Linked DNA regions of Homo sapiens. The protein of the gene in region 4 interacts with the protein of the main gene of each other region in a pairwise test. Each region holds a gene or a part of one and is shown on either strand. Other genes may lie near its edges.

Region 1 (7,443 bases), on a different chromosome or scaffold from region 4:
ACAGAGCTGGGAGGGCTGCATGGGGTCCCACTGGATGACTCCCCGTCTGCATCCCCACAGGCCCCAGCGGAGGGACCTTCAGTCCAGCCCGGTCCCCTCAGGCCCATGGAGGAAGAGCTGCCACCTCCCCCGGCAGAACCTGTTGAGAAAGGGGCATCCACAGGTAGGTGCACAGGGCTGAGAGGATACTGGGGTGATCTCATGGGGCCAGCATGGGCTTCCAGGTAGAAACCAAGAGAGTGAGGACCCCTCTTCCCATCCCCACCCCAGCTCATGTTAACAATGATGGGCTTTGTAGTTCGGCATCCATTTAATTTGTATTGCTTTAGCCTTTTTCCCTTTATACCTAAATTCTATTTAAAATGTTAGTCTGCAGTTTGCTATGATAGCAAAAATGTCTTGAATTTTTTCTCACTATTTTATTTTCTGAACACCTAATGCCCTCACACAGTGCAAAATAAACAGCATGAGTGGGGACACAGTGAGAAGCCTGCAACCTGCCCCATCCCCCTACCACCCGGTTTCCTTCCAGATGGGTGTCCTCTGTCATTGAGCTCTCATGTATCCTGCCAAAGACACTATGCACATACGAGCAAATACAAATATGTGTCCACCTGCTCCCTCCCCCCATTTTTCCATAAGTAGCAAACTAGGCTCTTCTGCTGTTCACTTTCTTTCCTTCGTACATCTCAGAGCTGGTCACACATCAGAATATAAAGTGGCTCCTGGCTGAGCGTGGTGGCTCACGCCTATAATCCCAGCATTTTGGGAGGCTGAGGCAGGTGGATCACCTGAGGTCAGGAGTTCGAGATCCGCCTGGCCAACATGGTGAAATGCTGTCTCTACTAAAAATACGAAAGTTAGCTGGGTGTGGTGGTGTGTGCCTGTAATCCCAGCTACTCGGGAGGCTGAGGCAGGAGAATCTCTTGAACCCAGGAGGCGGAGGTTGCAGTGAGCTGAGATTGCGCCACTGCTCTCCAGCCTGGGTGACAGAGTGAGCTTCCGTCTCAAAAAAATAAAAAAATAAAATAAAATAAATAAACAAAGTGGCTCCTGGCTGGGTGTAGTGGTTCATGCCTGTAATCCCAGCACTTTGGGAGGTCAAGGCAGCCAACAATCCCTTTGTCCTGAAACTGCTGTCCAGAATTCCTTATTTATTTATGTTATTTATTTTTATTTTTATTTTTTTAGACAGAGTCTTGCTCTGTCACCAGGCTAGAGTGCAGTGGCGCGATCTTGGCTCATTGCAACCTCCACCTCCTGGGTTTAAGCGAGTCTCCTGCCTCAGTCTCCTGAGTACTGGGACTACAGGCGCCCGCTACCACGCCCAGCTAATTTTTGTATTTTTAGTAGAGACAGGGTTTCACCATGTTGGCCAGATGGTCTCGATCTCTTGACCTTGTGATCCGCCCACCTCGGCATCCCAAAGTGCTGAGATTACAGGTGTGAGCCACCGCGCCGGGCTCTTTATTTTTTTTAATTTTTATTGTTTTTCCTGAAACAGAGCCTCACTCTGTTACCCATGCTGGAGTGCAATGGCACAGTCTCGGCTCACTATAACCTCTGCCTCCTAGGTTCAAGTGATTCTCCTGCCTCAGCCCCATGAGTAGCTGGGACTACGGGGGCATGCCACTATGCCCGGCTAATTTTTGTATTTTTAGTAGAGATGGGGTTTCACCATGTTGGCCAGGCTGGTCTTGAACTCCTGTCCTCAAGTGATCCGCTCACCTTGGCCTCCCAAAGTGCTGGCATTACAGGTGTGAGCCACCATGCCTGACTCAGATTCCTTTTTAATGCTCCTCATGACCCTCTGTATTTGTCATTTGAGGAATTTGCAGGGTTTAAGACAGAGCCTCGGGTATCCTGAGCATGTTCTGGGTGGTGCCTGGGTACAGTCCTCACAGGCTGGGCTGGTGATGGCCTGTGTCTCCCCTACCCCAGACATCTGTGCCTTCTGCCACAAGACCGTGTCCCCCCGAGAGCTGGCTGTGGAGGCCATGAAGAGGCAGTACCATGCCCAGTGCTTCACGTGCCGCACCTGCCGCCGCCAGCTGGCTGGGCAGAGCTTCTACCAGAAGGATGGGCGACCCCTCTGCGAACCCTGCTACCAGGTAACCCCTGCAGCAGACCTCTGGGTGCCAGGCAGTGAGCTGAGCACTTAGAATATGTTGCACCATTTCATTCCCCACACAGTCCTGGGAAGTAGGCACTATTGACCCCTTTCACAGATGAGGAAACTGAGGCTCAGAAAGAAGGAGCCCAGTGAAGGCGATTGGTTTCCTAGGGCTGCCTGTAAGAGATCACCACAACCTTCGTGGCTTCCAGCAGTACACGTTTATTCTGTCCCAGTTCGGGAGATCAAAAGTCCAAAATCAGCTTCACTGGGCCAAAACCAAGGTGGTGTGCTGTCTGGAGGCTTGAGGGAGAACCCACATCTCTGCCTTTTGCAATTTCTTTTTTTCTTCTTCTTCTTCTTTTTTTTTGCGGTGGGGGACGGAGTCTCACTCTATCGCCCAGGCTGGAGTGCAGTGGCACGATGTCAGCTCACTGCAACCTCGGCCACCCAGGTTCAAGGGATTCTCCTGCCTCAGCCTCCCGAGTAGCTGGGATTACAGGCACCTGACACCACACCCGGCTAATTTTTGTATTTTTGGTAGAGATGGGGTTTCACCATCTTGGCCAGGCTGGTCTTGAACTCCTGACCTCGTGAGCCACCCACCTCGACCTCCCAAAGTGCTGGGATTACAGGCATGAGCCACTGCGCCCAGCCTGTTTTTTTTTGTTTTTTTTTTTTTTTAAGATGGAGGCTCATTCTGTCACCCCAGCTGGAGTGCAGTCGTACAATCTCAGATCACTGCAACCTCTGCTTCCCGGGTTGAAGCAATTCCCATGTCTCAGCCTCCTGAGTAGCTGGGACTACAGGTGCCTGCCACCATGCCCAACTAATTTTTGTATTTTTAGTAGAGATGGGATTTCACCACTTTGGCCAGGCTGGTCTCAAACTCCTGACCTCAAGGAATCCACCCCCTCGGCCTCACAAAGTGCTGGGATTACAGGTGTGAGCCACCGCACCTGGCCCCTTTTGCAGTTTATGAAGCTGCATTCTCCTTGACTCCTTCCTCTGCTTCAAAGCCAGCAGTGTAGCATCCCACTTCAGCGGCCCTATTGTCACCTCTGTGTCAAGTTACAGGGACACGCGATGGCATTTAGGACCCACCTGGATAATCAGGATAATCTCCCCCATCTTAAGATCCTTAGCTCATCCCATCTGAAAGCCTCTTTTGCCGGGCAAGGTAACATTCGGGGTCCAGAGATAAGGACTGGATATCTTTGGGGGCATCTCTTAGCTACCACACGAGGTCACACGAGATGGCCAAGGAGCTGGGATTCTACTCCACACCCATCTGGCTCTGGAGCCTGCCATCAGTCTTGCCACTATCTCCCCTAGAGTAGAGCCACAGGGTTCCAATGTTTGATCTCACGGGAATCTGTGTTGCTTCCGGGTACCAAGTGCAATCTGGGAGAGCCAGCTGGGATGCCAGCACACTGGAATTTCTAACTCTTGGATGGTTTGTGGTGGCATGTTGAGTGTGGTGACCACCCACAGCCGCATCCCCTGGGGATGTGTAGGCCACTCTTTGTGCTTATGAATGAGGAACACCTGGAAATCAGCATTTTGAATCAGTGTCTCAAGTGATTCTCATGCATATAGAAGTTTGAAAACGGCTGATTTGAAGGGTTAGAGTATTTGGAGCTGAGACTCTCCAGAAGAATCCAAACAATCCAATCCCAGGCTCACCACCAGTGAGGCACTGTGGGAAGAGAGAGGAGCCAGGCCCTCCCTGCCGTGTCCCTGTGACCCCATCAACATCATGGGGGAGTGTTCCTCAGGGGTGAGACACCAGGGGAGGAGGGGTGTCCAGCTGGAAGCAGGAAGCAGCCAGGAGGAAGACTTGAGCAGTGTGCTGGGGAGAGAAGGGCCATGCCCATGAGAGGGAGGGGGGAGTGGGAGATGCCCCCACACGTGTCCAGGTGAGGTCAAGGTAAAATGCACAGGAGCACAGCCAGGAAGGAGAGACAGCATGTCCAGGAGAAAAGGTGGAAAGGCTAGAGGGAAGCCCACTGCCCTGCCTCGGGAATCTCTTTGTCATTGCTCCTCATTCCAGAAGGAATTTGAGGCAGCTTCTATGAATGCATGTATACCAGCCAGGCGCGGTGGCTCACACCTGCAATCTCAGCACTTTGGGAGGCTGAGGTGGGAGGATTACTTGAGGTCAGAAGTTCAAGACGAGCCTGGGCAACATAGCAAGACTCCATCTCTATTTTAATATAGCTATTTTTTTATTAAAATATGTTTTTAAAGAGAATGCATATATACCTATAGACCACAATAACATGCGTGCACTGAAAAATTCCACGTGATTCTCCCGCCTCAGCCTCTCAAGTAGCTGGGATTACAGTTGCCCACCACCACGCCCGGCTATTTTTTGTATTTTTAGTAGAGACGGGGGTTTCACCATGTTGGCCAGGCTTGTCTGGAACTCCTGACCTCAGGAGATCTGCCTGCCTCAGCCTCCCAAAGTCCAGGGATTACAGGCATAAGCCACCTTGCCTGGCGCATTTCTTCTTAAAGCATCATATAAAATTATGTTAACTGGCCAGGTGCCGTGGCTCATGCCAGGCCGAGGCAGGTGGATCACCTGAGGTTAGGAGTTCGAGACCAGCCTGACCAAAATGGAAAAACCCTGTCTCTACTAAAAATACAAAAACTAGCCAGGCATGGTGCGTGCCTGTAATCCCAGCTACTTGGGAGGCTGAGGCAGGAGAATCACTTGAACCCGGGAGGCAGAGGCTGCAGTGAGTCAAGATCACACCACTGCACTCCAGCCTGCGCAACAGAGCAAGACTCCATCTCAAAAAAAAGAAAAAGCCTGGGCACGGTGGCTCACGCCTGTAATCCCAGCACTTTGGGAGGCTGAGGCAGGCAGATCACCTGAGGTCAGGAGTTCGAGACCAGCCTGACCAACATGGAGAAACCCCGTCTCTACTAAAAATACAAAAAATTAGCCGGATGTGGTGGCGCATGCCTGTAATCCCACCTACTCGGGAGGCTGAGGCAGGAGAATTGCTTTAACCCGGGAAACGAGGTTGTGGTGAGCCAAGATTGCGCCACTGCACTTCAGCCTGATTGACAAGAGCAAAACTCCGTCTCAGAAAAAAAAAAAAAAAAAAAGGTAGATCTCATGTTAAGTGTTCTTCCCACAATAAAACAATTTTTTAAAGACTGCAATAATACTACGATATGTAAAATAAAGACATCCAAACAGAAGGAAAATCAAAATAGAAAGTGAGACGAGATCAAAGGGAATGTTACTACCCAAAATGTGTGAGGAAGCCAGACACGGTGGCTCACGCCTGTAATCCCAGCACTTTGGGAAGCTAACGTGGGTTGATCACTTGAGGTCAGGAGTTCGAAACCAGCCTGGCCAACATGGTGAAACACCGTGTCTACAAAAAATTAGCCGGGCGTGGTGGCGCACACCTGTAGTCCCAGCTACTCAGGAGGCTGAGGCATGAGAATCACTTGAACCTCAAGTAGAGGATGCAGTGAGCTGAGATTGGGGCACTGCACTCCAGCCTCAGTAACAGAGCGAGACTCTGTCCCAAAACAAAACAAGAACCAAATAACAACAAAAAAGCCCTATAATGGTTTCTAAACGTGAAATGTGGAATTTGGCTCTGAGCTTCCAAGTGGCCAAATGGAAAAGGGAAAGAATTTCAAGTCTTCTTGTCTGTATGATAAAGCACCCAATTCTCCTGAGAATTCCTTTTCCTGACCCTGAGGTTTAAGCGAGGTTTCTCCTATAGCTCTGTGGACCCTGGCCATAAACATATCCCAGTAACAAGAAATGCAGCCATAGCATCAGGGCATCAGGGCAGTATTCCTTGCTGTAAGCCAAGGATGCAAGGCTAAGCTCAATTTGTTATAAGCAATGGTGGAGGTTTTGGGCGATAGTTACAGGTTGTCTGCAGGCCTCTCCTGTACTTCCCAGTTCCTGGGCCCCTGAGGGCAGCCTCTCAGAAGAAGACGACCCTCGTGGGTTGGGGTGGGTGTGTCGTGGATGGTTCTGGCAGTGGCCTCTGTCCTAGGACACACTGGAGAGGTGCGGCAAGTGTGGCGAGGTGGTCCGGGACCACATCATCAGGGCCCTGGGCCAGGCCTTCCACCCCTCCTGCTTCACGTGTGTGACCTGCGCCCGGTGCATTGGGGATGAGAGCTTTGCCCTGGGCAGCCAGAACGAGGTGTACTGCCTGGACGACTTCTACAGGTACGAGAAGGGTTTGTGCACTGGGTGGGGTGCAGGGACAGGGCGAGACCCAAGCAGGGTGAAGGAGCTGAGCTTGAGTCCTGGGTGCTGGGCCAGAGTTTCCTGTCTACTGGTTTATTATAAAGAATATTACAGGGCTGGGCTGGGCGCGGTGGCTCACGCCTGTAATCCCAGCACTTTGGGAGGCCGAGGCGGGTGGATCACGAGGTCAGGAGATCGAGATCATCCTGGCTAACATGGTGAAACCCCGTCTCTACTAAAAATACAAAAAAAATTAGCCAGGCATGGTGGCGGGCGCCTGTAGTCCCAGCTACTCGGGAGGCTGAGGCAGGAGAATGGCGTGAACCTGGGAGGCAGAGCTTGCAGTGAGCCGAGATCACGCCACTGCACTCCAGCCTGGGCAACAGAGTGTGAGACTCCGTCTCAAAAAAAAAAAAAAAAAAAAAAGAATATTACAGTGCTGGGGGCAGTGGCTCACACCTGTAATCCCAGCACTTTTGGAGGCCAAGGTGGGCAGATCATGAGGTCAGGAGTTTGAGGCCAGCCTGGCCAATACGGTAAAACCCCATCTCTACAAAAAATACAAAAATTAGCTGAGCATGGTGGTGTGTGCCTGTAGTCCCAGCTACTTGGGAGGCTGAGGCAGAAGAATCACTTGAACCCAGGAGGTGGAGTTTGCAGTGAGCCGAGATCGCACCACTGCACTCCAGCCTGGGTGACAGAGTGAGACTCTGTCTCAAAAAAAAAAAAAAAGAAAAGGATATTACAGCGATACAGACAGACACGTGAAGAGATGCCTAGGATGAGGTCTAGGGGAAGGGGCAAGGAGCTTACATGCCCTCCCTCCCCAAGTGTGCCACCCTCCAGGAACCCCCACATGTTCAGCCACCTGAAAGCTCCCGAACCCTGTCCTCTTGGGCCTTCTATGGAGACGTCATTGGATAGGCATGATTGACCACCCAGTAGAAATTCGGCTGGAGGAAAAGGGTATGGTGGAAGCTAATAAACTGAGAGGGAAACCTAGCAGGGCCTGTCCAGAGTCATCTTGGTCTCTATGCAGCTTTTCTTCCTCCAGGATGGAGGGCAGGATTCTCCCTGGAATGAATGAAGGGCT
Region 2 (7,443 bases), on a different chromosome or scaffold from region 4:
AAATACTATTTTGACATATCAATATTTAAAAATATTGAGTTGTTTTGCTTTTTTAACATTAAGTTCAAAATCCAATGTGTGTTTTACATTTACAGCACTTCTCAGTTTGGATTAATTTCAAGAGCTCACTAGCTACATGTGGCCAAAGGGCTATTGTATTACATAGGGCAGGTCTAGATCATCTTTTTCAATGGCAGCAAGTCTTCTAATCTCATTTAGATGGTCATTGAAGTTGTTTCCAACCTATAATCACTATCGATTATGTTGCAAAGAACATGGGATTAGCATCCACTGTCAGTTGCAAAAAGATCCCCCCAAAAAGTAGCTTAAATAAGGTAGAAGCCTATTTCTCTCAAGCATAAAAGTGTGGAGAAAAGCAATCAATAATTGGTTAAGATCCTATCCAGTATTTTATCCTGTTTCTGATGTGAGGCTGCTCTGCCTAGAGTTATCTCTTTAGTTTTAAGTCAGCTGCTGGATCTTTTAAGGATTCCAAGGAGCAAAAGGGGAAAGAATTCAAAAGGCATAAGCTGCTGCCTTTTTAAGAAGGTTTCTTGGAAGTTACACAAAAAAACTTTCAACTGTTGCTCATTGACCAGCATTTAGTTCTCTGGCAACAGTTAGCTGCAAGGAAGTCTTGGGAAATGTAGTCTTTTAACTGGATCATTGTTAAATCAGGGATTTTGTTTGAAAAAGGAGGTGGGGAATAGGTGGTAGCCAGCCAGCAACTTGTGTTGTCATCAAGCCTGCGTGCATCTTTGCACACTTGCCCGATTATCCCCTTAGATAAATTCCTAGATGTTCATCACTGGTTCAAAGGGTTTATAGCTTTATATTTTGATTTATTTTTCCAATTTGCCTTTTAGAAAAGTTATGCCAATTTGTACTCCCACCTCTAACAATCAGTGAGTGCTGTTTCCTCACACAATTGCCAGTGATGGCTGTTAGCAATCTTTAAAATTTTTGCCAATATGACCAGCAAAAAAAGTGTCATTAGTGGTTTAATGTGCATTTACTGTACTCCTAATGAGGTTAAGCATCATCTCATATGCTTTATGACCATTTGTATATCTTCTTTGCGAATGGCACTTTCGGTTTTCTTTATTGATACATAATATTTTATGTATTTGTGTGAGTGCTTTTTACTTGTATGGATTGTGTAATAATCAAGTCAGGGTATTTGAGATTTCCATCACCTTGAGTGCTTATCATTTTTATGTGTTGGTACCTTTTCAGTTCTTTTGGATATTTTTTTCTAAGGGATTTAAAAAACTCTTTCATTGATTTCTAAGAGCTTTTATAATATTTTAATAATCAGGATATTAATCCTTAGATATTTGTGTGAGCTATTTTCTTTTTTTCCCCTCAGGATATGCTTAAGTTATGTGTTAGATATTTTCTTTGTTGACTTTAGGTCATGTTTATTTATTATGTAGCTAAATCTGTCAGTGTTTCCACTTATGATTTTTGATTTTGTATCATGATTGGAAAGGGCTTCCCCATCTCTAGATTATTTTCTTCTAATGCTTTTATGTTTCTTTTATTTTTATCTTTACGTCTTTTCTTTTTTATTTAAGTAAATTCCATCTGGAATTTATTTTGATTAAACTTGCTGTCTATCTCAGTTCTTATTTTTTCAAATAGCAAAGTTATTAACCATGTGTTGAAAATTTATTTCCCACTGAGTTTTATATGCTCATCATATATACTAAATTCCCATCTATGCTCAAGATTTTCTGAAAGTACTGATGCTTTTGTTTTTTTGTTTTTAAACAGAAAAGCTTGTTTTTGTTTTTACTGGAGGGTTAGGTGGCAGTACTGGTATTTTTATTGGTTGTTTTTTGCATTAGTTAAAAAGCACTTCACATTTCAATGGTTTTTTAGCCTTATAGTGAAGAAGAAGAAGGCCAAGAGTCAAGTGAAGAGGGCAGTGAAGAAGATGTAGAGGCGGTGGATGAAACAGCAGATGGAGCAGAAGTTAAGCAAAGGTACAAAAGTGGGAAAGGATATCAAAGTAGGTTTAGGAAACATTTTATTTGTTTATTTTTATTATTATAACTAATTCAATACTTTCTTGAAATGGAGACAACTTGTACCTGGAGAGCTTTTCATACTATTGTCTGCTTAAAGATCATTACTGTTTTAGTTTTGTAATTATTTTTAATACATTTAGCTCTACCTCGTTTTCATCTGGAAACTGTTAGATTTTCAAAACTTACTGATGATTATCAACTGTGATTAAAGAAGTTCCCTAATTGAGTGAATAGGCATAACCTGACCTGACTCACTTTGCTATTTTGTCTCCCCAGAACTGATCCCCACTGGAGTGCTGTTCAGAAAGCGATTTCAGAGGCGGGCATCTTCTGTCTTGTTAATCATGTCTCGTTTTGCTACCTAATAGTTCTGATGCGAAATAGGATGGAGACTGTGGAAGACACCAATGGATCTGAAACAGGGTTCAGGGCATGGAATGTACAGAGCAGAGGACGTATATTTCTGGTTTCTAAGCCTGTGCTCCAAGTAACATTTCTCATTAGTTTTTTTTTTTTTTTGTACAAAAAGAATAGATAATTCATGGTGTCACTTGAGGACTTGGAAACATTCTCATTGATCCTGCTTTCCTATCATTTGAGTGGAAACAGATGTTAAATTTTATTTACTATTCGAAAAATCCTGAAAGCCTTTAATAAAAAGTAAGAAATTGGCCAGGCATGGTGATTCACACTGGTAATCCCAACATTTTGGGAAGCTGAAGCAGGAGGATCACTTGAGGCCAGGAATTCAAGACCAGCTTGAGCAACATAGTGAGACCCTATCCTACAAAAAATAAGAAAAATTAGCCAGGTGTGGTGGCTCATGCCTGTAGTCCCAGCTACTCGGGAGGCTGAGGTGGGAGGATTGCATGAGTTTGGGAAGTCAAGGCTGTAGTGAGCTGTGATTGTGCCACTGCACTCCAGAGCATGAGTGACAGGGCAAGACCCTGTCTTAAAAAAAAAAAAGTAATTAATTACATTTTTTTAAAGGAGAAATGATCCATAATTCTGTCATTAAAAAAAAATTACAGGCCGGGCACAGTGGCTCATGGGCACAGTGGCTCACACCTGTAATCCCAGCACTTTGGGAGGCCAAGGCGGGTGGATCACCTGGGGTCAAGAGTTCAAGACCAGCCTAGTCAACACAGCGAAACCTCACCTCGACTAAAAATAGAAAAATTAGCTGGGCGTGGTAGCGCATGTCTGTAGTCCCAGCTCCTGGGGAGGCTGAGGCAGGAGAATTGCTTGAACCTGGGAGGCGGAGGTTGCAGTGAGCCGAGAATACTCCACTGTACTCCAGCCTGGGCGACAGAGTGAGACTCCGTCTCAAAAAACAAAAAAATAATTACATAGCCAAATGAAAATTCTCTTCCTCAAACTCATAAGTAATCACCATTAACAATTTAGTACGTGTCCTTCCTGACCTTTTTCGTTATTTATTACTTATAAGTACATCCTTGTATGTGTGAGGGTGTGTGTCTATGAGTAGTGTGTATGTGTATACAAAAAAAATCCATTAATTCTTCAGTGCATGTGATTTGCCAATAGACATTAACTTACCTGTGAAATGGAAGCGCAGGGTGGAGCAGGACAGGAGCAGGGACATTTTGATAAGGGTATACTTGAAGCAGCTGCTCCGGAACACACAGCTCTGCACGCTGGGCACTGTATGGGGCTTAGGTCCTTAGGAGAGGCCAGGGTGCTGTGATGGCATCCTCTCAGGAATTTGGGGCCAAATCGTATTATTCTTCCACTAAAGTCTGTATGTTTATATTTTTCTTTTTTGGGTTATAGTTACTCTAGTGATAAAGTATTATAGAGATGCAGAAACATGACTGAAAACAAATCCATTTTGATGTTACTGTCTTCAGCAGATAAACACTGTTGATGTGTTAACTACGATGGGAGCTATTCCTGCAGGGTTCAGGCCTTCCACGCTCTCACAGCTTCTGGAGGAAGGTAATGCGTGCCTATCAGCCACTGCACTCTTTCAGCAAAGCAGTCAAGATCCACGTCTAATTTTTCTGTCACAGGCAAAACACATTGTTGAAGAAGATGTTGAATCTCACATCTCTTTGGTGCTCATCTTTTCCTCATCCTTCCTATGACAGTGAGGAAAGATCCCTGATCCTATCAGAGGCCAGCCTGTTTACCAGTGCTCCGGGTTCCAGCCCCTTTCTTTTTTTCAAAAATGTGACTCCTTTAATTTTCAGCCCTTTCCTGTGTCTTTAGCTGGCCCACCTTCCCCACACTGGTTCATTCCCTCATCTGTGCTATCAGCACACCTAATTCTCCCCACCTTAAAGGATCAGCCCCTTGAATCCTATCCCATTCTAGCCAAAACCTCCTTTTCTCTGATCTTCTTCCAAGCAAGACTTTTCCAAAGAATTATCTCCATTTGGAATTTTCATTTTCCTTACTCATTCTTGGCTTTCCCTGTATTTGGCAACTTTTGTCTATAAGCTCATTTTAAAGAGGATTCATGCTGGGGGACAAGGGGTGTCCTGTATACCCTGAGTTGTTGAGTTGTCATGGAAGGGCTGCTTTGAGGATGCCTTTGCTGGGAAGGTTCTTCCCAGTACTCCCTAAATTCCCATCTTTTCATCCTTCAGGTCTCGCGGTAAATTCTGCCTTCCCAGAGATGCCTTCCTTGAGTAATGTGGGTTTCCCTTACTCCCATTCATGTGAACACCCTTTATAGCTCTATGTCCCCTAATAATTATTTTATTTATTTGCTTGTCTACTTATTTTCTAAGAAAATTTTCCTCCCATTCAACTGTAAACTATGGAGGGCAGGGGACATATCTCTGATTTATCTTTGTATTTCTAGAACCTGGTGTAGCATCTGGCAAGAGTAGAAGCTCAAAAATTATTTCTCGAATGGATAAATGATGTTATTAAAAGTATTATTCATGACTAAAGCATGGAGGAAGAGCATAAAATGCTTTTGTGTTAAGAAGTAAAACTAACGACTTTGTTTTTTCTGAAGTCTCCAAAAAGTGCTCATAGATTTCTGCATTTTACAAAAATATTTGAATGAATCCTTGTCATCATGGGGCATATTATTGGCCTAAAAGTCTTTCTTAAAGGTGCTTTAAGATGATCTTTTATGTGTTTGTATCTGTAAGTTTTGTACTGCTGTTTTTATCCATAAATCTATATTGGCGCTTCTATTTTGGAAAGCAAGTTCTTAGTAAGCAGCGTGGCATTTTGGAAGTGCCTGTACTCTAGTTCATAGCATAACATTATGGATTTTTGATTTGGAGTTTCTTTCTTTGTAAGAAAATGAAGAAAAAATGATTTTTTCAGGGAATCAATTTCGAGCAAATTACTTCTTACAACCAGAGCTCATGCCTTCACAACTGGCCTTCAGAGATCTGATGTGGGATGCTACAGAAGGCACTGTAAGTATAGTTACTATCAGTAAAAGTGTAACTCTTCCAGATTTTGTCATAGTTGCAATTAGACAAACAACATGTTAATTGACTAATGAATTATAAAAAACAAAAAAATTGTTTATGATAATTTTGAAAATAGCGATATTTTTATAACTAAGGCAGAATTTGGACTTGCTACCTTGACTTTATCTTGTTTCTCTTCTCCATTGCACTCTTCTCTCATTGTTAGAAAGGAAATAATACTAGGTTTCTATCTTAATCATTCTTTGCCTCAATTTCTTCATCTGTAAAGATGGAGTAATAGTAATGCTTCCAACATAAAGTTATTTTGATAATTATGTGTGTGAAGGGTTTTGAATAATGCCTGGCATATGAAAAGAACTCAATAGATGTTAGCCATTATTATCATTTATAGTAGTAGTAGCAGTAGTAGTAGTATTTTTGAGACAGGGTCTCCCTCTGTCACCCAGGCTAGAGGGCAGTGGTGTGATCATGGCTCACTGTAACCTCAAATTCCTGGGCTCAAGCGACCCTCCCACTTCAGCTTCCTGAGTAGCTGGGGCCACAGGCCTACACCACCATGCCCAGGTAATTTTTGTATTTTTTGTAAAGATGGGGTTTTGCCACGTTGCCAGGCTGGTCTCAAACTCCTGAGCTCAAGCAATCTGCCCTCCTATCCCTCCCAAAGTGCTAGGATTACAAGTGTGAGCCACCAGTCCCAGTCTAATATAAGTTATTTAAATGAAAAGGCTTATGACCGTAAAGCAGAATGTAAAGTTTAATGAATTGAAGCTGTTCTTAAAAAATAAAAAATCAGAATGCCAATTTATTTACTCACAATCTGAATTATACCTATGAAGCAGATCTGAATAAATATATCAGATAGTGCATTCTCTCTGTTAAAACACCTATTAAGAAACTAAGGAACTATGCAGATAATTGCTTGGAATAAAAAATAGTGGGGATAATCTTAATGCCAGGTGGCATTGGTTTTATGCTGCGTTAGCCTTCTGCACTTACCCACATTCTGTAGGAGTGAACCGGGACTGGAATACAGTGATTCTATAGTCATAGATCATATACATTTTGCCTGCCAATATTTATTGTTCCTTTCATCACAGCTTTTAAGTATTTAAGAAAAATGCAATATTTCAAATGTAACTCTATGAAAAATTTACCTAAAATGACTGATTTAATTTTCAATGAACAGAGTATTGAAACTTTTATTGTATATGTGTAAATTTTTTCTTTTTTAAAAATTCTGTATACATTTTCATAAGCCGAATTCACAAAAGACAGATTTGTGTTAGAAATCATAAAAATAAACTTTTTTATAACTAATTTTTCTTTCAGATTAGGTCGAGACCAAGTCGTATTTCATTGATTCTGACATTATGGAGCTGTAAAATGATTCCTCTTCCAGGAATGAGCATACAGGTTCTCAGCAGACATGTACGCCTCTGTCTATTTGATGGTAATAAGGTAAGGTTACTGAGAAGTAAATCAATTCATACTAGGATTATGGAGAAACATTCCCTTAGATTCTTTTCCATTCAACTCCTCCCCAATTCCCAAGAGAGTATTTTTTACCTAGTACCAAAGAAAAATTTGAATGACTCTTTGAAAAATTCATTTTTTAAATGAGATACAGGTTAAACAGTACTTAGATGGAAATTTATAGTTTTAATTGTGTATATTAAAAAAAAGATAAAAGATTTAAAGTCAGTGATCTAAGCTAGCAAATCAAGAGGCTAGAAAAAGAAGAGTGAGTTAAACCTGAAGAAAGTAGAAAGTGGGAAATAATACAGATAAGAGTAGAAATTAATGAAATAGAAAACAGATGGACCAAAGAGAAAATTTTAAAAAAGACAAAAGTTGATTCTTTGAAAACATTAATAAAACTGAAAGATGCATAGTGAGACTATTAAGACTTTTTTAAAAAGTAAAAGAAAACAAACTATTAACATCTGACATGGAAATAGAGACATTATCACAGATCCTTCAGACATTAA
Region 3 (7,443 bases), on a different chromosome or scaffold from region 4:
TGATGGACTCTCACTCTGTTGCCCAGCCTAGAGTGCAATGGCACGATCTTGGCTCACTGGAACCTCCACCTCCTGGGTTCAAGCGATTCTCCCGCCTCAGCCTCCTGAGTAGCTGGGATTACAGGCACCTGCCACCACACCCGGCTAATTTTTGAATTATTAGAGAGGTAGGGTTTCGCCATGTTGGCCAGGCTGGTCTCGAACTTCTGACCTCAGGTGATCCACCTGCCTTGGCCTCCCAAAGTGCTGGGATTACAGAAGTGAGCCACCATGCCCGGCCTGGTGCCTATTTTAATGTCAGGTTGGGTATTTGACTCTTGATAAGCAAATGCTTCATAATTGATAATGATGATATCTCAACTTCAATCCTATGCACAGTGTTAGCCAAAATAATGTAAAGTGTCAGCAGGAGCAAGGTTAAAGATGAGATAAAAACAATACATAGGAGGCATGTGGGTTAGATATTGCAGCACATCAACTTAATCAAAATTTAGAGGACAAGAATAGTAACAACTCATAGAATAAGTCACAACCTGAACATAAACCTGGGTCTGTGTGACTAGTTATACTCCCTGAGCTATAACCACATTCCTACCTTTTGGCCCAGAAGTCCCATTTCTGAAATTTTATCCTGATTAAATAATTGAAAAGTGAAAAACAATCTTGGAGCTGACCAAAACTTTGATCACTTTGACTCATGCTAGCCCACCTAGATGATCACACCCCTCAGCTAGACCACTAGACCACTAGTAATGCTATGAGGCTGCACCAACATCCACAGACAAAATTTTAAAGGCAAATCTTTAGGATGTATCTTTTTAAAAAAATCGCTTAATATTGCCTGTCCTTAATGTCGCCTGAGGGAATATTAAGATCAGTGGGTCAGGAAAAGAGTCACGGCATTCCAGCACTTTGGGAGGCCAAGGCGGGTGGATCACTTAAGGCCAGGAGTTTGAGACCAGCCTGGCCAACATGGTGAAACCCCATCTCTACTAAAAATACAAAAAAATTAGCCGGGCGTGGTGGCGTACGCCTGTAATCCCAGCTACTCCAGAGGCAGAGGCAGGAGAATCACTTGAACCCAGGAAGCGGAGGTTCCAGTGAGCTGAGATTGCACCACTGCACTCCAGCCTGGGTGACAGAGTGAGACTCTGTCTCAAAAAATAATAAATAAATAAATAAATAAATAAATAAATAAATAAATAAATAAAAGAGTCGTGACATTAATTATGGCAAAAGTCAGTATTCACTGAACAACAGAGGTAGAAAGCTAAAATGACAAAAGGGCTTTGTATGTTTTCTGAGACAGGGAAGACAGTTGCACTTCCATTTAATCTGACAGAGATAAATAAGTGACAATCCCAGGCCTCCAGGAGCTTGCAGATGTGGCAGACTGTAATAAAAATGTGGACGGGCTCTGGAAGGTGAAGGGCATTATGCACAGCAGAGGTGAAGACTTTGTACTGGGGAGGAGAACAAGGAGGATAGGGATGGTTCCTTCACATTTGTCCAGTCCACATTCCACTAGAAGCACAAAGCCCTGGCACGGCACACTTGGACCATTGTCAAGTGTCTGTCAGAGAAAAACTCCCCAGCCTTGACCTTAACTAGGGCTATAAGCACTGGCCATTAACTGTGTCCATGGCTGCAGAGATAGTTATAACAATTTACAAGATACCTTACCTTACCAGAAGATGAAGATGAAGAAGAAGAAGAAGGCGGAGAAGGAGAAAAAGAAGGAGAAGGAGAAGTGGGAGGAGAAGCAGTAGAAGTGGAAGAGGTAGAAAATGTTCAAACAGAGTTTCCAGGAGAAGATGAAAACCCAGAAAAAGCTTCAGAGCTCTCTCAGGTGGAGCTGCAGGCTGCCCCTGGGGCACTTCCAGTTTCCTCTCCAGAGCCACCTCCAGCCCTGCCACCTGCTGCGGATGCCCCTGTGACACAGGTAACCCCTCCTGAGTCTCTTTCTACAGGGCACATGGGCGTGTCTCCTTATGGAATAGCCTAAACAATTTACCCTATTCTGCCTTAAGAAAAAGATAACTATATGCCAGACATTCGTATATGGTAGACGAAAGATTTCAGGACAGTCCTCATGTCGGGGAGAAAAGTCCTCTAGGTGATTCAACAGGTTCTTTGTTGTTATTGTTAGTTAACAAAATTTAATACAACTTTCCCACCAGTAATGCCCTCAAATCAAAGGCAATCTTTGTCTGGAAATTGTGTGTGTGTGTGTGTGTGTGTGTGTGTGTGTGTGTGTGTGTCCATGTCTGTGTGTCATGTTAATTCATAGAGAGCTGATATCATGGGGACTGGGTCTGCTCTTTGTTACTTAGTGAATGTATATGTAGGGTATAGGATGAGAAATAAATAGCATACAGAGTAAGAAATAAAAGTGATTATACTTTCAGAACTTTGAATTTTCTGTAGATAATTGAGGGGGTAAATAGAGAAACTACACTAGTTTATGTTCCTGTTGCTTACCCTGAAATACAACTTATGTATTTTTCCTTCAGTGAGCAAACAATGAAGCCTGGTTTTCTATGGATTTGTCATTTGATGAGATTGTGTGTTGACAGAATTGTTTAAAACATATCTTAAGAAATAAGCTCACCCCAGATGCTGCACCTAATTGGTTGACCTCATGTTTCTAATACGTCACCGTCCAGTTTTCAAGCCTTTGTGCAGACTCCATGATACTTCAGCAGACAGGATCCCAACCTTTTGAGTTTGCAGGCAGTGCAGACTCATCAGAGAGGAGTCCTGCTTCTGCAACTGCTTTTGAAGTGGATTGAAACAAAACTCCAGAGGGGGATCTCAGAGATGGAACTGTATTTCTATGCTCTGTCTCCACAGGAAACCAGGCTAAAATGCCATTTATAGTCTAGAATTTTTAAATTCTGAGCATTTCAGTTGTATTAAAATTGAAAGAGGTATAGTAACTAAGTGAGGGTTGGATTTGATCAATAAGATTAATTTTTGTTTTTTATAATGAGGTTTTTGGGACTCACGTATAAAGCCAACAAATTATTCTAGTCAATAGTTTGACCCTTTTCCCATATCTGATATTTTATAACCAACATTCACTGAGGTTTCTGCTCTCTGCCTGCCTGGGCTCCCAGTGAGTGAAAGACAAGCTCAGAAAAGAAGAGGGCACCCATCCAGATGCTGGACAGAGGGGCACTGTAGTCACCATTCTGCCCTTAGCGCTTCTGGAGGGTGGGATGAACTAAAACGGCCACCAAGGCACTGCATGCAGGGAGCGCACAGTGTTCAAACCCAAAGGGAACTAAAATCAACTGCTTTTTCTTCTTCTTCTTCTTTTTTTTTTTCTTTACTTTTGAATTTATCTGTCCTGATTAAGGGGGAGGTTGTACCCACTGGCTCTGAGCAGACCACAGAGTCTGAAACTCCAGTCCCTGCAGCAGCAGAAACTGCGGATCCCTTGTTTTACCCTAGTTGGTATAAAGGCCAAACCCGGAAAGCCACCACCAACCCACCTTGCACCCCAGGGAGCGAAGGTCTGGGGCAAATAGGGCCTCCAGGTTCTGAGGATTCGAATGTACGGAAGGCAGAAGTGGCAGCAGCCGCAGCGAGTGAGAGGGCAGCTGTGAGTGGTAAGGAAACTAGTGCACCTGCAGCTACTTCTCAGGTTAGTGATGATGCACTTGTGTCTATGCTTTCCCGCGCCCCCTAGGGTCCCACTGGAACAGGCCACAGCAAGAAGAAAAAGGGTTTTCAAAGGGGCAGAGAGAAACCTCAGCCAGGGGAAAAGTACAGAAACAATTCATCCCCCAATGTTGGCTTGTTTTGAGCTCTATATAAAAGAAAACATAAAACAAAACAAATTTGAGTTCACTCTCCTGGTGCATGGTGACCTCACACCTGGCTTCCCAGGGGAGGGGTGCAAGTGAGCCTGGCCCTTAGGCATGCTACTGAGCGCTGCTTCATCTGCAGTGACTGGCTGTGTCCCCAGTCCTCCTTACCAACGGCCACTTGCCCTTGCTCAGCCTTCCCTGTGTCCTCCTTGGGCTTCTAAAGACTAATCCCCTGCTTTTGTGTCATTCCCAGCAACCCCCAAGGAGCACACTTGAGTTTTAAGTCTGTTCTGGAGAATAACCTCTGATTCATGGATTCTTGGAGTGTGCTGGCTACAGCTAGACAGAGACAGTCTTGGCTTGATTAAACCTGTGCTTCCTAAGCATGTACTCCTGGGAGTGGAAAAGCACAGGTGCTCCTCCACAGAGATTTTTTTCAAGAGACTCTTTCTTTATATGATGAGTTTGAAGTCCATGTCTTCCCCCTAACACTTGGTTAGATGTTTGCATGTCTTGAAGAGTCCACAGAAGAAATCTTTTACAATTTCTTCACAAGGAAGAATGTTCATGGTGACTCCATACTCATGAGCATTCTTAAATGATGTGTAGGGTGTGAGTGTTGCCCAGGCAAGAAGCTGCCAGAAAGCACTCTCCAGTTCCATGCTCCTGGGTCATCAGGTGATTGATTATGAACCACAAACAACATGTTCTCAAAAATCAGACAATGACTTATTATTTTGATTGTATCTGCCCAAGAGACTTCAATTCCATGAGGTAGTAAAAGGAAATGATTTTGGAAAATTAAAAGTAACATGCTTTGGGGTTGGATGTTTATTTTCACAGATAAAATGACAAAAATAAATGTTTGGTGGGAAGAAATCTTATGAGGTGGTTTTTAGGTAAAAGATGCAGTAGACTGATTATTTCTAGAAAATGTGTGGCAATTCTTATACATGGTAGTAGAAGCTGTGTGCGGAGGGGCTGTTTTCTGAAAACAGTAGTGCACTACCCCATGAAGAGCACGTAGTAGGGCTCAAGCCAAAATGAAAAGTCCATTGAAATAATGTTGAAAATAATTATTTGTGATAATATCAGTGAAGCTTTCTTCTTGTTTTCTCACAGGAGTTAGTAATCTGCCTAGCGCTTTTGGCTTTTCTTATTCTTCACTACATCTGGAGTCAGATTCAGTGCTTGATTTTTACTTTAATGGGTAGGAAATATTTTCTTTTCCCTTGACTAACATCTCACATAGTTTCTTCCATAATGTTCCTCTTCTATAGGCCCAGAGATTAATTTCTCCCCAAATCTTGAGGCTCAGTCCTCCCAAAAGAACATTGTTCTCAGATTATACTGGAGGCCTCAAGCTCACACAATGCAATCGCCTCAAGACCTCTTTCTGAGGAGAATTGCTCCATTATCTATTCCTGCATGGAGGGGAACCTTGACTGAGAACAGTAACTCCATGGGCAATTATTCAGTAATCCAGGAGGAGCAAACCCTCCAGAATGGTCATTAGGGGAGGCCAGTTTCAAGTGTCCATAATGCGGTGAGGACTTACTGCTCGTAGAGAAAGGAGCGGCAAAGGACTCCTGCAGGAAAATGCAGGTTTCCATAGATTAAGTACAAGCATTTCATCTGCTTACACCAGAGATGCCCAGGAGGTGGCCAAGTGACTCCTCGTGGGATGATGTTCTAGGCAGTTCCTATGCAGGTGAGCAGGTGGGTTCTCTTTGAACCCTCAGACTCTACAGAGTTTCTCCTGGGAGAGGAGGTCCCTGAGAGAAAGATGCCCTGACTGAAGAAATATCTGGGGGATTGCAGCCACGTGAGACCTGAATGAATTAACAGCCAGAGGATCAATGTGCACTTACCAGCTATCAGGAATTAGAACCAAGAACTAAGCCATAAAGTCATCAAGCAGTCCATTTATATTATTTCCGAGTCACCGTTCTCATAGCCAAGCCTTTGCTTGATTGCTGTTATGAGGTTTGCTTGAGGACTGACATCATAATCCTTTAATACCCTTTTGAAAGTTCTCAGTTTAATTAATAATATTTAAAGATTCCAACTTCCATGTACTTTTGTGTAAATGACCCTGCTGGGCCTGAGACCCAACTCCTTGTTCCTGTAGCTCAAAGGCAGTTCAGGGTCAATGGTGCTGAAAAGCCTCGGCTATTTCTGGCTCACTGACTTTTCCCTGGGTTGACACTGACTCTTCTGGAAGCTCCCTTCATAGACTTTCTGCCTCATTAGCCATCTGCTCAGCAATGGCGGTGGCGTCTCCATTGGTCTCTGCCGTGTCTGGAACTGTGTGTGAGCAGGACCTGCCCACAATGTCCAATAGTCAGCTGGAAACCTGTGCACCCTAGAGTGTCCTGAGTGTCCTTACAGTCTGCTCAGCTGCCCAACTCCTTCAGACATTATCTGTGGTAAAAAGGAGTGGGAGGATGTATTGGCCATGGACTCAGAGGGGTGAATGGTGAGAGAGAAAACTCCATGCTTTATTGGAACCAGGACCTAATTGTGGATCTGAATAATTGTCTGAAGGGTTCTGTTTACATTCTGAGAATTCGGGTTTAGGGCTTTGTCACTACATATATGTCTTGTATTGCTTCTCTGAGGCTGCAGAGGGAGTGTCATGCTTCAAGGCTGTGATCCACTGAGCCCATGTCATGTATGCTGACATCCACGTGCCTGCCTAGGGAGAGGAGGGTGGGGCAGGTGGAGCAGGTGTGGGGAGGGCGTTGACATCCAGTATTGCAAAAAACCTTACTGTATAGTTCTTGGTGTTTGAGGAAGGGCCTTTCACATAGAGAAGGACACCTGTTCATGATGGAGTACTACTCTTTGATCCCAGAAATGGGATATGGGCAGGTTGATAGAGACCTCACTATAGTAGCAAATTCCCGGCCTCTGAGAATATTTTGCAGGTCTGATTCACCTTCACCACTTCAGAACCCAGTTTACCAGATTCATATTTGTCCAGTTCAAGGTTAGAGTGCTAGAATTTCACATTTCATCACTAGGCTTACCTTGAGTATTTAGGATGTGGTAAGAGTTCTCTTTGATTCAGTGGTGGTCTTATCTCTCTTTACTAGGTGGTCCCGTGTCAGAGTAATGCTGCCTTTAAAACTCAGAAGCATCTCAGGCTCACTTGCTGATCTGTAAACTACATTCAGCCCACAACAGCTGAACTGCAAACCTTTTAGAAGCAAATGCTCTATTTCCTGGTGCTTTCCTTACATCCATGTACACAGTGAAACATGCCCTCGATTTTACTGCCTGTGGTTTCTGGTGCTGAACAATTTCTGCTTTATCACATACCTTACCTTCTCTCTTCACCCAAGTACACAGGCAAAAAAAACCGGTCATGGCAAAAACCAAACATCAGCTTCCTCTACGAGTGATGGACAGGACCACTACTTTTTGTTAGATCAGAAGAGTGCTGTAGCTCCCCCATGGGCATTCTCTAAGAAAAAGCAAGGTTTGGATTCAGCCTTGTGGTGAATTTGAACTCATCAAAGGCCCCAGTTTCCTTGGGCTTCTACAGGATCTCTATTTGGTGGATTAACTCAGCAGCTGCTCTGGCTGATACTTGAGCTGGACACAGCAGCTGCCTCAGGGTAAG
Region 4 (7,443 bases):
TGAACCAAGCTCTCTCTGGGAGGTGACACTTCCTCCCCCCACCTTGAGGCACACGAACTGTTTATGACTACAAACGATCAGTACAGCTCTTTTTTTTTTTTTTTTTTTTTTTTGAGAAGGAGTCTCACTTTGTTGCCCAGGCTGGAGTGCAGCGGTGCAATTTCAGCTCACTGCAACCTCCACCTCCCAGGTTTACGCAATTCTTGTGCCTCAGCCTCCTGAGTAGGTGGGATTACAGGTGCCCGCCACCACGCCCTGCTTATTTTTGTATTTTTAGAAGAGATAGGGTTTTGCCATGTTAGCCAGGCTGGTCTCGAACTCCTGACCTCAGGTGATCTGCCTGCCTCGGCCCCCCAAAGTGCTGGGATTATAGGAGTAAGCCACCGCGCCCGGCCCAATAAAGCTCTTTTTAAGTGATCATGTCTGAACTCTACAGTAATGAGGCTTTACCACATTCCCATGTGACCCGACGTTGATGTGACTACACAAGAAGAACCTGTTAACTAAAGCCAAGAAGGCGGAGTCGACAGCTCCGTGACTCGTTAGGAAGGATGGGAGATGCAGTGTAGAAAGACAACCCCCTCTCCAGAGCTCGCAACACAAGCTCCATCTGAAGACGATTTAGATTTCCCTTCTCTGTAGAATTTGTGCAATTCCACAGGACATGCCAACTTCTGGGCAGAGGAGCCTCAAAATTTTCACTCACAGTGGCTTCCCTCTGGAAGGATTCTTTATAGAAAGAACTTGGAACACATTTCAGACAGACTGTGTGACCTGTTGACTGGCTAATCGGGGCCCAAGAAGAACAATTCACCACCAAAGGGCTAGATGTGGCCCAGCGAGTTCTGCAGCACAGCCCTCGTTCTAATTTCAGGAATGAAAGAGAAATACTAGAAGGATGCCGCTGGGCTGCCACCTCTTAAATACTTCCAGACCCTGGCATCGGCAGGGCCAGTTCTTTCACTGACATGATTCTATTTGACAGATAGTTAATCTAAAAATCTAAAAGCATATCTACGTTTCCCCCATGTGACACAATAAAGCTATTTTTATTTGGAAGAGGAAAAAGGTAGCAAGGTAAACATTTGTTTTTCTTGGATGAGACTCTGTGAAAATAAACATAGAAGAACATAATGAAATGAAGTGAAATGAAAAGGTCAGCACAGCCGACTTGGATACTGTGTTCTGGGCCATGCCTAAACTTGGTTCCCAAAGGCACCCACTGCCCTGAAGGCTGGAGCCAAGGCTTCCCCACCCTACTAGTCCCCGACGCCCACCTGGGATTTTCAGGTTCAGGTCACAAATGCTCCCGACAGTGGCCACGGACGGGGCCCGACTGGTGCGGGTGATGCTCTCTTTGACTCTTCCCTCCCCACTGATCTTCACGGTAAATGGGCTCCCTGCAAGACCCAAGAAGGCTCCTGTGAGCAGGCCAGAGGCCAAGGCACAGCATTTACAGAAAACCCAAGCATCCCACCTGGAGGGGAATGGAATGCACATACCAGGCACGTGCTCGTCAGCGAATTTGGTGGAGACGATATAAACCCCAGGCACGGTAGGGAAGTAGGAGACTTTGCAGGTGCCATCTTCCAGGTCCTCCGTCTGGATGTCCACTTTGCTGGGGCCTTCCACCGCCAAGGATATGCCACCATAACCTGCAACACAGCAGCCCCAGGCTGTTCTGACAGCAGCTCCTCAGGAAGAGGGAGCCTGATGAATGGAGAAAGGACATCCGACCCTTACGCCTCAATCTATTTCTACATAGCAGAAAGAAAGCAATGGCGGCCTCGTTTGCAAAGCCCAGAGGGGGATGAGTAGGTTAAGCGTCCTGAGAAGCCCCATAGTGAAATAACCTGCTGAACCTGGTTTTGACCACAGAAGCCTTTCCTTAAGGATATTTACTAATATCCCATAGATGATGTGTCCCGTACAAACTGCTGGGGAGGACCTTCTGCCCTCACGCCTCCAAGTACTGCACGTACCACCTTGGGGGTTTATCCACAGCCAGATCTGAGATTTTGAATTTTTAAATAGCCCCTGGCTACCTCAGCTAGGTCAGCATATCCGAAGGTTTAACAGGGAGTATCTCCCAACCAGGACCAGAAATTCTCCAGCCCTCTCCCCGGGTTAGAATTTGTCTAGAATTCACCAGCGTGGCCATCCTTCAAGAAAGCAGATGACTGGAGGCACTGGGGTGTGGCAAGCTTGGAAGAGACACAATCTAACTCAAACCATCTCAAAGAGAAAACAGAAAGAGATGCTTCATTTCCACAAAAGCTCTGCTCAGATGACCATGGTCTTGGCCAATCAACCCAACATTCTTTGCTTGGAGAGACGCTGGGAAGCTGAGAACAAGGGTGGGAGAGCAGATAAGAAAACAGGGGTTTGCGAGGTGTTGTGGCTCTGGGTTCAGATCCTAGTGCAGAGGGGGCTCTAAACCTTGCAAGCCTCAGTTTCATCATCTAAAAAACAAAGACAATCCCATTTTTGCCAATGGTCATGAGGCATAAAAGACAATGCAGGCAGAAGGACCTATAGCTTGAAGGATGCTCAGAAAGGAAAAGGAGTTGGTAGGATGAAAAGATGACGCTGCCTCAGCAAAATAAGTCGGTTCCCACAAGCTCTGGGCCTCTCCCCTGGGACCACACAGACCTGCATCCCTTGTGTCCACGATGAAGTCAGACATCTCGAAAGTCCGGCCTTCTGACAGGCCGCGGCCATAGACTTTGGCTCGGCGGGCGTCACCAATCTCCGACTGGACCACCATGATAGACACGGGGCTGTTGGCCACATGGTTGCCATTTTTCTTGATGCTGACCAGATGTTCGCCCACTTCCCGGGGGATGAAGGAGATGCCTGGACCAGAACACAGATTGGGGCTTGTAAGGGGATGGCGGAGAGGAAGCAGGAGAGAGACACACTCTCAGAAATAGAAATATGTCCTCTTTCCTGACACCCAACAATCCAGAGTGTCGATATCACAATGCACAAATACGCTTGGGCATTTATCGTGCGTGTGACCCAGCAGGTTTATCACATCACACTCCATTGTGCTACCCATTCCCAAGAAAGGACTGCAAGAGTCCCCATCTCCCACCCAAGATGTCCTGGCTCCAGCCAGGAAGGGTAGCCTAGCTCACCAATGTGGTTGTTGGGCAGCCTCTTCAGGAGACAGGGCTCGTCTCGGCCAGATGGGGCCTTAATGCTGGCCGTCAGGCTGCTGAGGTCAGTCTCACTGATGTCGAGCAGGAAGTCAGCGGCTGAGCCCAACTTCACCTGGGAGCACCGCCTGCTGTCATCTGGGAAACATCCCCCAAAAAGGACTCCCGTTACATGTGGTTACCCTGGCTTCACAGAGCTGCCATGCCATATGCTGTTCACGGATGAACACGCAAGAACTAATTACACAAAGTTAAGTGAAAAAAAAATGAGCCTTGAACACTGAGTAGACCCAACCAATGAAGAATGATGGGATTCATGCCTGCTTGCAGCAAAGACAAGAAGCTGGCAGGACCTAGAGACTTGAGTCCTCATGGACCACATTTTAAAGGAATCTTTGGGCCAGGTGCCTAATCCCAACACTTTGAGAGGCTGAGGCAGACGAATCACTTGAGGTCAGGAGTTCAAGACCAGCCTGTCCAACATGGTGAAACTTCATCTCTATTAAAAATACAAAAATAAGCTGGGTGTGGTGGTGGGTGCTGTAATCCCAGCTATTCAGGAGGCTGAGGCAGGAGAATCGCTTGAACCCAGGAGGTAGAGGTCACAGTGAGCCGAGATCATGCCACTAAAACTCCAGCCTGGGTGATAGAGTGAGACTCTGTCTCAAAAATAAAATAAAATATAGGAATTTTTGTTAGTTGAAGGCACCTCATACCTGCCTGGCATGGCTGTGGGCATTTCTAGGTAAACAATGACCACATTCCACACAGTACTACTGGCTGCTTCACAGACAGGTCTAAATACGGTGGGGAAACAGGATCTGCCTTGTGCATCTTCCTTATAACCCACTGAAAGCATAACCTGAACACAGCAAGGTGAGGAGCATGGGCTTTGGAATTTGATAACCTGGATCTGTTTACCTATATGTGAACTTGGCTACACCACTACCTTGCCAAGCCTCAGTTTTCCCATCTGTAAAAGGGATAGCAGAAAATTTACCTAGTAGTGACGCTGAAGGGCATGTCTAAGCTCATGCACTTCATGCACTATTGCAGTAAGTATGATTCGAACACTCCATCTGAGAGCTTTCTCTTTGCACCCTAGAGTCACACTGGCACAATAAAAGTGTGCTCCAAATACTAGCTCTCGCATTTTCCTGGATTATCAGCAAGAGAAGGATTTAGCTAATCCAAAATTGCATTCCATCCCCTGCTCCTCCTCAACAAGTCTCTGTGAAACCTAAACTCAAAGAGACGTCTAGCCTGCTGCCAGGGGTCTGATAAGGAGGGTGGCAGTCAGAGGCAGCCATACTTCCCACGAGGAAGACCCCAGAAGCCAGACAACCCTACCTGTGATCTTGGCTGTGAAGGGGCTGCCAGGGATGTGCTTGTCATTGTACTTGACCAGAATGCTGTAGTCGCCTGGCAGAGTCGGCAGGTAGGTCACTGTGCATGTCCCATCTTTATTGTCAATGCAGCTGATTTCTGCTTTTGAGGGGCCCTCAATAGCCAAGTCCAGACCACCTACAAGTGGGAACAGGGATGCAGGGGTGTTAGGGAGAGAGTTGCCTTGTTTTAAGAGTTTCCTTTTAACAACTCATCCAGGGCAGCCCTGATGCTGGGGACAATGGATTGACGCACTCCACGTGAGCTGTGGGCAAAGGGACATCTGTCAGAATGAAGCAGTCCACGCAGTAAAAACACCCACTGAGAAGAAACCCCAAACATCTGAGTTCTTCACTGCAAGTAACCCTGGAGCTCTCTCTACTCTCAGGATGCATGGGATGAGAAAAGGAAGGAGCCGTGTACATCAATTACACATAGGAGACGGTGGGTGGTGGAGGGCAGAGGTGGATTGTCCCTGCCCATCAGGCACTGGCTGCCATCACGGAAATCCCATTAGAACCACAGATTTGGGATTATCCATGAATACCACGGGAATGGGCACACAGCTTTATCAAAAAGAGCCACTCAGTAAGTCATGTGGTCTTGTGGATACATGTGCAACAAGAACAAAAACATCACCAACCAAAACACACTTAAATTCCAGACAAGTCACATAAAGTATTTCATAGCATGAATCTGATTTCAGTTAGAACACAAAGGACTTCAAAAATGTCTGTCTGGGTAGAAGACGAAGCGGCTCTAAAGAAGAAACAGATTTACACGAGAGAAAAGACAAGACAAATACTACCATTCGATTGTCTCACTTTTAAAAGCCACCCTGGAACCGTGTCCACTTCACCCTCCAAATGGACAGCTGGAGGCGTATAAACACGTAAACCACACAGTACCTTCTCCTGCATCCTCTGTGACGATGGTGAAGGTGGCAGTTTTGTTGGCCACTCCATACACGAGGCCTGGACCGTATGCAGAAACACTTCCACTGTTGGGGTAGTTCACGTAGAACTGGAGTGGGCTCTCTGGGTTTACGAAGGACACAAACAAAATTGGTGCTCATTAAGGGGTGAACGAAGACCCTGGACAACTGGCATCTTGACGTCCACCTCTCTACAGGTCTGGCGCCTCCTAAGCAGAGGCATGAAGAGACAGAAGGAGATGCACATGCACCTCCCATCCCCCGCCATCCTAGGACATCAGAGAGGGTCTACGCAGTATTATTCCTTCAATCACAACATAAGAAAAACAATCCTGGAAGCTGCTCCAGATGAGGAAGGGGGCTAAGGTAAGGTACCAGCCCAACCTGACAAATAAGGAAGAAACTTTTGCACTGGGTGGTGAAAGGACCCATGGCCAGAGGGAAGGTAAGTGGAAAGGGCTTTTGGAAGGCCATTTGCCCATGCCATTCAACCTGTAAGGAATCAACCCCACAGTGGTCTTCTCTGCCCACCCCGACTCCTAGCCCTATGTAAGCACTTTCATTTCTGCAGTGTTCGGGTGCACATCAGGAAAAGACCTAAGTGTTCACAACAGGGGACCGGTTAAATAAATGCTGATCTACTCATGGGCCATTAAAAAGAGTGAGGAAGACCCATGTTTACTGACTTGAGAAATTATCCATAATATGATGCATTAAAAAGAAAAAAAGCAAGTTGCTATAAACTATGAATACCATTATGCTATTCCTTTAAAAACAAAATAGAATAAAATTATATGTATGTTTGTAGATACAGAGAGAAACATCTGAAAAGATACACAACTCACACCAGCAGTGGAAGTGGATGGCAGATGTGAGAAAGACATTTTTTCCTCTCTCTCCATCTGCCGCTTTAGAATATTTAAATAGAAGCAGATAATACATTTTTGCTTTAAACCAATATTACATACAGACAACTAAAGTAAATGCCAATCTCAGAGAAACATTTGCAACTCCTACCACAAAGGGCTAATCTCTCCAATGTTTACATTGCTCTTAGAAACTATATGACAAAGGCCAATAACCAAATAGAAAAACAGGCCGTGGATCCAAATGTTCAGTTCACAGAAAAAGAAATACAAATAGACATAGGGAAAGTTGTGTGGTCTCATTCACAAGAGAAATACAAATAAAGCAACGCTGAGATTCTGTTTCTTTCCAACCATCAGACTGGCAAAGCTCCAAAAATTTGATACCATATTCTACTGGCAAATTTTGTGGAAAAGAAGGTGCTCTTCTCCATGGCCAGAGGGCGTGTGAACTGCAACAGCCCCTCTGAAGGGCAATTTGGCAAGATCTGTCAAAATCATAGATGCCTGCACTGGGGCCCTAGCATTGCCTCCTCTGGTAACTAAATCTCACAGATACATCTTTGTGAGTGTGAGGTGACTAGGGGAAAAGTCGATTTGCGCAGCAACACTGGGGACAGCGAGGGCAGGAAGAACCAAAATGCCCTCCAATAGGGAAATGGTCAAATATGTAATGGTTCGTCCACATGAGGGAAGGCTGGGAAGACACTCTCTTATATATCTGTATTTCCGTTTGCATGGAGAGTCTTAAAAATACTCTGAAATTGGCCAGGCGTGGCGGCTCATGCCTGTTATCCCAACACTTTAGGAGACAAAGGCGGGAGGTCTGCTTGAGGACAGGAGTTTGAGACCAATCTGTGCAACACAGTGAGACCCTATCTCCACAAAAAAATAAAAAATAAAACCCTGAAACTCTGAAATCGAACATAAAAAAATTTATGATAGTCTAGTTCAAGGAGAGGGGTAGGAAGGAAAACTTTCTTCGTATCATTTTTATTTTTGAACCATGAGAATGTGTTACCTATTCAAAATACTAAATTAAAAAACAAATACAACTACAAAAAGAAAGAATGAACTGGTGACACTGTGCTGGTTG

The links.
Region 1: the proteins of FLNB (region 4) and FBLIM1 interact in a two-hybrid assay, tested with the Homo sapiens proteins (one study listed by BioGRID).
Region 2: the proteins of FLNB (region 4) and NPHP1 interact in a two-hybrid assay, tested with the Homo sapiens proteins (one study listed by BioGRID).
Region 3: the proteins of FLNB (region 4) and TRIM55 interact in a two-hybrid assay, tested with the Homo sapiens proteins (one study listed by BioGRID).

The regions. Positions count from the first base shown.
Region 1 is NC_000001.11:15,768,468-15,775,910, forward strand, and holds part of FBLIM1 (filamin-binding LIM protein 1), read left to right. Parts: intron 1-60; coding exon 61-163; intron 164-1,941; coding exon 1,942-2,111; intron 2,112-6,150; coding exon 6,151-6,329; coding exon of another isoform or gene 6,330-6,564; exon of another isoform or gene 6,565-6,754; intron 6,755-7,443. UniProt on the Homo sapiens protein: Serves as an anchoring site for cell-ECM adhesion proteins and filamin-containing actin filaments. Is implicated in cell shape modulation (spreading) and motility.
Region 2 is NC_000002.12:110,159,597-110,167,039, reverse strand, and holds part of NPHP1 (nephrocystin-1), read left to right. Parts: intron 1-1,884; coding exon 1,885-1,988; intron 1,989-2,309; coding exon 2,310-2,352; coding exon of another isoform or gene 2,353-2,520; intron 2,521-3,904; coding exon 3,905-3,992; intron 3,993-5,342; coding exon 5,343-5,437; intron 5,438-6,784; coding exon 6,785-6,913; intron 6,914-7,443. UniProt on the Homo sapiens protein: Together with BCAR1 it may play a role in the control of epithelial cell polarity. Involved in the organization of apical junctions in kidney cells together with NPHP4 and RPGRIP1L/NPHP8. Does not seem to be strictly required for ciliogenesis.
Region 3 is NC_000008.11:66,150,686-66,158,128, forward strand, and holds part of TRIM55 (tripartite motif-containing protein 55), read left to right. Parts: intron 1-1,691; coding exon 1,692-1,942; intron 1,943-3,361; coding exon 3,362-3,649; intron 3,650-4,937; coding exon of another isoform or gene 4,938-5,025; intron 5,026-7,443. UniProt on the Homo sapiens protein: E3 ubiquitin ligase that plays an important role in regulating cardiac development and contractility, muscle growth, metabolism, and fiber-type differentiation.
Region 4 is NC_000003.12:58,144,062-58,151,504, reverse strand, and holds part of FLNB (filamin-B), read right to left. Parts: intron 5,585-7,443; coding exon 5,456-5,584; intron 4,686-5,455; coding exon 4,512-4,685; intron 3,300-4,511; coding exon 3,141-3,299; intron 2,857-3,140; coding exon 2,653-2,856; intron 1,656-2,652; coding exon 1,503-1,655; intron 1,401-1,502; coding exon 1,278-1,400; intron 1-1,277. UniProt on the Homo sapiens protein: Connects cell membrane constituents to the actin cytoskeleton. May promote orthogonal branching of actin filaments and links actin filaments to membrane glycoproteins. Anchors various transmembrane proteins to the actin cytoskeleton.